Linked DNA regions of Homo sapiens: region 2 is linked to region 1. The links come from fine-mapping of genetic effects on gene expression. A gene starts in region 1. The other region holds a variant in brackets. All regions are shown on one strand. Distances are from middle to middle.

Region 1 (2,901 bases):
GTTTCGGGGCAGTGGGTGGGGGTGTCTGCCCAGCCTGGCCTCACTTCTACCATGCGCTGCAGGACAGGTGTAATTAGACAGGAAAACTCAATAATGGTGACCCCGTAACTAACTGAGCTGGGATCCTTAAGTAGCTTGATCATGGAATTCTCTCATTGGCTGTTACCAATATTTCTATTCACAGGTTAAAATACTAAGTCGAAAAGAGGATAAGTCATTTGCTCAAGGCCAGGCATCACTGGTGAGATTTGGACTCAGGCTTGCCAAATCCCCCAAGCCAGAAAATCATACTCCCGCACTCCCACTTTGCCTTCCACTCCCCTTGCCCCTTCCTCACTGGCATGGAAGAGTCCTGGACTTCCGCAAGTCGCCCCTGCGGGGCTGGACTGTTCTCTCCAGATGGTGAGTCCGGGGCATGGTCACCTGCGGGAGAGAAAAGAGTTAACTCCACACTCCACGAATCCGGCAGCTGCGAGGATCTGGGATGCAACCTACTCAGATGGTTACGTGAGACCGGTGAGGGAGGCTCAGGGAGCGCCAGCCACTAGCCCTAGGCCGAACGGCAACTGGGACAGGAGTGGGGAGCTTAAAAGCCAAGGGCTCCCAGGAGAGTACGGAGGCTCCACCTGGGGGAGGTGGGGGATCACCGACCCCTTTCCGAGGCGCTCACCGCCCGATGTTCGGTGCCGCTGCAGCCGCTCGTCCAGCATCCGGCAGAGCCCGTCTCCGAAGTGCTGTAGGATCTTAGCTTCCTTCCCGCTGCGCAGCGGCAGTGGGTACCGTCGGAGGGAACGCAGCGCCTGGCCGGGCAGGGGTAGGGTACCTGGTCAGGGCAGGCCTGACCTGGCCAGCAGCTTTTCCCATCGGGCCACGCCAGGACCCACCTTCTGAAATACGAAGCGCGTGCGGCGCCTGCTGCGGGTCGCCTCGTCCCGCCACTCGGTCAGCCAGCGAACGAAGAGCGGGTTGGGACAGGCAGGCAGCGGGCGCTTCCGGCCCAGGCGGACCGGGGCCGCCATGAGCCCGAGGGCGGGTCCTCCGGCGCTCCACGCCCGCGGGACTGGGACGCCGCCAGTTCTGGAGTCGGGATTCGAACACCTGGCCCAGGGCGGGGCGGGGGAAGAGGGAGACCGAGGGCAGGACCGTTGAGATCACGGGGCCCCAAACACAGGGGGCACTAACGAGAGGAGAGCCTGCGGCCGCCCTCCCACCCCTGCGCTGCTCTAAGTGGTTGGTCAGGGGCGCTGTCTCTAACGATCTTTTCCCTTGGCTCCACTCCAGCCAGCCTTTGAGACGCGCCCTTTCCCAGCCCCCGGAGCCTGGACCGGCTCCTTCCTGTCACCCCAGATTCGAGAGCGGGGTCTTTGTGTAGGCGAGAGGAAGGCGGACAGCGCCCCCTGTGACGGGGAGGACTGGCTGGGCGGCGCTTAACGGACTAACCTGAGCTTGGCGGCTCTAAGGTCTCTTAAGATTGTCAGCTTCAGCCTCAAGCTTGAAGGAGGCTGGAGATGGAGACTGGTCTTGAAAAGAGTCCAGGAGAGGCGGGGGCTAGGAGACAAACGGGTGCAAACGTATTGGTGGGAGGGACACCCAGAAATGGGTGCCGGGGATGAGGACACAAAGGTAAGGCAGGAGGAGCTGCAGGACCCTTGGAGGAAATGGTGATCCTCATCCCCGGGATACAGGGCAAAGAGTGTGTGGTGGAGAGGAAGTCGGGGACGTGCCGAGAAGGCCCAAAATAGAACTCGGAATGTCGGGGGTCAGAGGCCTAGAGGAAGGAGGACTGTAAGTAAGAGGTGCTTGGGCATCCTGGCAGTTGGGGAGGCCTGAGATGGGCACGCGGTTGGGTTTGGGAGCGGAGGAGCAGGCTGCGGGTTAAGAAGCCCAGACACAGGTAGAGGGGAGAACACTTCGTCATTTTTGTGGCTAATCGGAAGTGGGAGACCCTCAGGGAGGTTGAAGATGGAAACCCTACAAAGGGCTTCAACCTGAGAAGCCTGAAAGACACGTATAGCTGAGTTGGACACAGGCGACCCGCCAGGGTTTGAAGCAGCACCCGGCCTCTAGCTGCTATGCCGGAAGTCGCAACACGCAGGTCTCCAGCCTGCGAGGAAGGGAGAGGTGGGCGCCAGAGCTCCAGTCCCGCCCCTCAGGACTGTGCCTAGCCCACGGCGCAGTAGCCCCAGCCAAGCTAAATTGGACCAATGGGCTCCGGCTCCCGCCTCCCGCCCGCCGCGGCCTTATAAGGAGCCTCAAGCCGGCTGTCGGGCTGGCCCCGCCCCCTCGAGTCTCTTGTCCTAATAAGGACATCTAGGGCATCCCGCGGCTGGGGGCGGGCGAGAGCGCGTCTCCAGGGTAACTGCGAAGCCCCCCTCTCTCTCCCCGTTGCTCTTGGAAACTCTAAGGCTCAGAAAAGGGGGCGCTAGCCTCATATTCATGTAGGGTCGCTCGCGGGAGGCGGGGTCAAGCTGCTGTCTCCACCTGGAGCGCCGGGAGTCCGGGCGGGGGCGGTGCTGTGGAATGTCCCCGACTACAACCCCCGGTATGCTCTGCAAGGTACCCCACTCCCAGGCATCGCTCTCCGTTTACACCCTTAATTCCGTTTATAGGATTAGGGCCCCCAGTTCCCTTTCTGGGTTTGCCTCTGACTTGTTTGCGACCCAGTCTTTTCCTGCAGAGTGTGAGGCTGTGGTCACTGTTCTAGAACAACAAAATCATCCCGGAGTCCCCCGCTCGTTTCTTTTTTTTTTTAAGGCATATACTACCACAGAACTTGTCTCAGTTTTGCGGATGTTAGAATAACCATGTACCTGGCTATCAACTCGAGAGCTGGGTTCAAGTCTGGTTTAATATCTATTTCTTCTCATTGGCACGTAAAGGCATGTAAAGAAGCCTTGAATT
Region 2 (2,901 bases), 840 kb after region 1:
GAAATGTCATCCAGGAGCCAGTCGATGCCCGGCAGCAGGTTCTCCCCGGTGACGGCGCTGCAGCCCTGGATGCACCAGTGGTGGCTGCGGATGGAGTCCAGCTCCAGGACCTGGGAGGACAAAGGTGCTGATGGTGGTGGCCAGTGACTGCAGACCCTGCCTGCCGTCAGCCCCTTCCCTCCCCAGCCCAGAGGAACTCCACGCCTTCCTCAAGGCCCTGCTCCATGTCATCCCATCCAGGAAGCCCCGCCGGTCCCAGGGAGAGTTTGTCAGACCCCAGGGGCACCTGGGCTCTCTGTCCAGTTCCATGCCAGTGCTGCCCCTTAGTGATGTAAATGCAGCATGGGCTCCTGAGCATCCACCAGGATCCGGGCATCGTGCTAGGAGCCCCACACACCCTCTCTCACTCATTCTCCTCAAGCCCTCATGAGCCAGGGATTGTGTCGACCATTTCACCAAGGAGGAAACCAAAGTTCAGAGAGGTTAAGCAACCTGCCTAGGGGAACATAGCTCATAAGTGGCAGAGCCAAGATTTTAACCCTGCTCTTTCTCACTGTGGTGCTTGAGCACTAGAATCATGGTTAAAATGTGGGCTCTGGGGTCAGACACAGGCTTCCTGTCTATTTAGTGGCTGTGTGACCTGGGACAAGTTACCTAACCTCTGTGAGCCTGCTTCACCATCTGTAAAATAATAGTTCTCACCTCATGAGGTGGTTGTGAGAATGAAATGAGTTAATCCATGCAAGGAGCAGAGCATACTGAAAGCACTGACTTGTGCTGGCTACCGTTAGCCTGTGAACAACACATGCGCAGCTCTGCCTTCCCCAGGCTGTGGGCCACCCCATGCCTTATTAATCACTGGATCCCCAGTGCCCTGCATAGGTCCTGCCACCTAGCAGGGCTAGGCTAATAAATGCTTTTCTTATTATTATTTTACTTCTTTCTTTTTTTTTTTTTTTTTGAGACGAAGTCTCACTCTTTTCCCACAGGCTAGAGTACAATGGCGCAATCTTGGCTCACTGCAACCTCCACGTCCTGGGTTCAAGCGATTCTCCTGTCTCAGCCTCCTGAGTAGCTGGGCTTACAGGCGCACGCCACTGCACCCAGCTAATTTTTGTATTTTTAGTACAGACGGGGTTTCATCATGTTGGTCAGGCTGGTCTCGAACTCCTGACCTCAGGTGATCCACTCGCCTTGGCCTCCCAAAGTGCTGGTATTACAGGCGTGAGCCACTGCACCCAGCCTTTTTGGTTATTTTTAATAAATGCTTTTAAAATAAATAAATGTATGCCCCTTTCCCTCAGCGAGCCTGTCCCGGGGCCTGGACTCACCTCGCGGATGGCGTTAGAGGACAGTGCTCCAGGCAGGTCCTGCTTATTAGCAAAGATGAGGAGGGTTGCTCCGGCCAGGCGCTGGGGGAGAAAAGATAGAGGGGTGGGGTGGGGACTCAGAGGACAGCCTGACCCCTCCTCTAATGGCCCAGAGCATCTGGGGTGAAGGATCGACCTGGAAGATCAAGGTGAGGCCCCGTGGTGGTGGGAGAG[G/C]CCCAGGAGTGAGTTTGTGGACGTAGCCATCAAGGCTGGCCCACATGAATGGAGCAGCCCTGGGCCAGGGTTCTGGTTCCAGCCAACCACCACCCAGGGGACACCGCTGTCCCCATGCTCCAGCTTCCTCTTCCATGAACAGGGAGGGGTGTTGCATAAGATGATCCCTGAGCTCTCCGTGGTTCTAGACTGCTCCAATCTGATGACCAGACATGCACAGAGGATGTGAACTCTCCCTCTTCTGGGTTCACACAGCCCTTTAACCGTTCCACTCCCGACAGGCCTCACTGTCCACCTCTGATTCTAGTTGTTTCCACATATGTGTCTGTGATTGGGAGAGATGTGGGTGGACGGGTCTAACCCTTGGGCCTTGACCTGCCTTGACCAGCATTTGACGGCCCTGATCTCATCTGACCTGCTCCACCCACATAGGAGATGTGTGCGGTGTGCCCAGGACAGTCCCCACTCTGCCTGCAGAATCCCCCCTTTCACTCTCACAAGTGTCCTCATTTTCAACTAAATGCAATTTTGTAGCCTGAATCAAACATTGGAACACAAAAAGTATATTAGTGGAAAAACGTGAAATTCAAATAAAATCTGTAATTAAGATAATAGTAATTCACCAGTGTTGATTTATTAGTTTGGACAGGCCACGGTTAGGTAAGATGGGGAAGCAAGGTAAAGGGTATATGGGGGACCTCTGACCTCTGTACTATCTTTGCAAGTGTCCTTCTTTTTTTTTTTTGAGACGGAGTCTCACTCTGTTGCCCAGGCTGGAGTGCAGTGGCACAATCTCGGCTCACTGCAAGCTCCGCCTCCCAGGTTCACGCCATTTTCCTGCCTCAGCCTCCTGAGTAGCTGGGACTACAGGCGCCCGCCACCATGCCTGGCTAATTTTTTGTATTTTTAGTAGACACGGGGTTTCACCATGTTAGCCAGGACGGTCTCGATCTCCTGACCTCGTGATCCGCCCGCTTCAGCCTCCCAAAGTGCTGGGATTACAGGCGTGAGCCACCGCACCTGGCCCCTTCCTTTTTTTTTTTTTTTGAGACAGGGTCTTGCTCTGTCGCCCAGGAGGCTGGAGTGCAGTGGCACGATCACAGCTCACTGCAGCCTCAACCTCCTGGGCTCAACTGATCCTCCTGTCTGAGCCTCCAGAGTAGCTAGGACTATAGGTGCGTGCCACCACCCCCAGCTGAGGTCACACAGCAAAGAGTCAGACTCTTGAGCCAGGCTCCATGGCCTCTCGAAGCTTCATACTGGCCTTGGGTTATCCTCCCTAAAGCCCAGTGATGTGGGTGTCATCATCACCATTTCAAGGCATAGAAACTGATGCTCAGGGTAGTGACGTAGTAAC

Which allele goes with the higher level. Positions count from the first base shown, and alleles are read on the strand shown. Sizes are in standard deviations (SD) of each study's normalised expression.
For the expression in monocytes after interferon gamma of the gene that starts at base 1,340 in region 1, allele C in region 2 goes with a lower level than allele G (large effect, 1.3 SD a copy in Fairfax 2014).

The links. PIP is the estimated chance that this variant, and not a neighbour inherited with it, causes the effect. A credible set is the group of variants that fine-mapping cannot tell apart.
Region 2: its variant is the best candidate, but not a certain one, in a credible set for the expression of MUS81 in monocytes after interferon gamma (Fairfax 2014, PIP 0.55).

What each region holds. Positions count from the first base shown.
Region 1 is chr11:65,858,872-65,861,772 of GRCh38, reverse strand. It overlaps MUS81 (MUS81 structure-specific endonuclease subunit), which reads right to left and starts at 1,340. Exons shown (of 16, transcript NM_025128.5): 1 at 885-1,340; 2 at 671-800; 3 at 338-423. The coding sequence starts at 1,019. RefSeq lists enhancers at 1-85, 778-1,317, 1,598-1,687, 1,818-1,867, 2,388-2,477 and silencers at 668-757, 928-1,087, 2,138-2,217.
Region 2 is chr11:65,018,930-65,021,830 of GRCh38, reverse strand. ARL2 (ARF like GTPase 2) reads right to left here. Exons shown (of 5, transcript NM_001667.4): 4 at 1,332-1,412; 5 at 1-110. All of the region lies in intron 3 of ARL2-SNX15 (ARL2-SNX15 readthrough (NMD candidate)), which reads right to left. Among named protein-coding and RNA genes, the nearest start is that of MIR6879, 1.9 kb to the right of the region's middle. The variant G/C (reference allele first, on the strand shown) is at 1,545.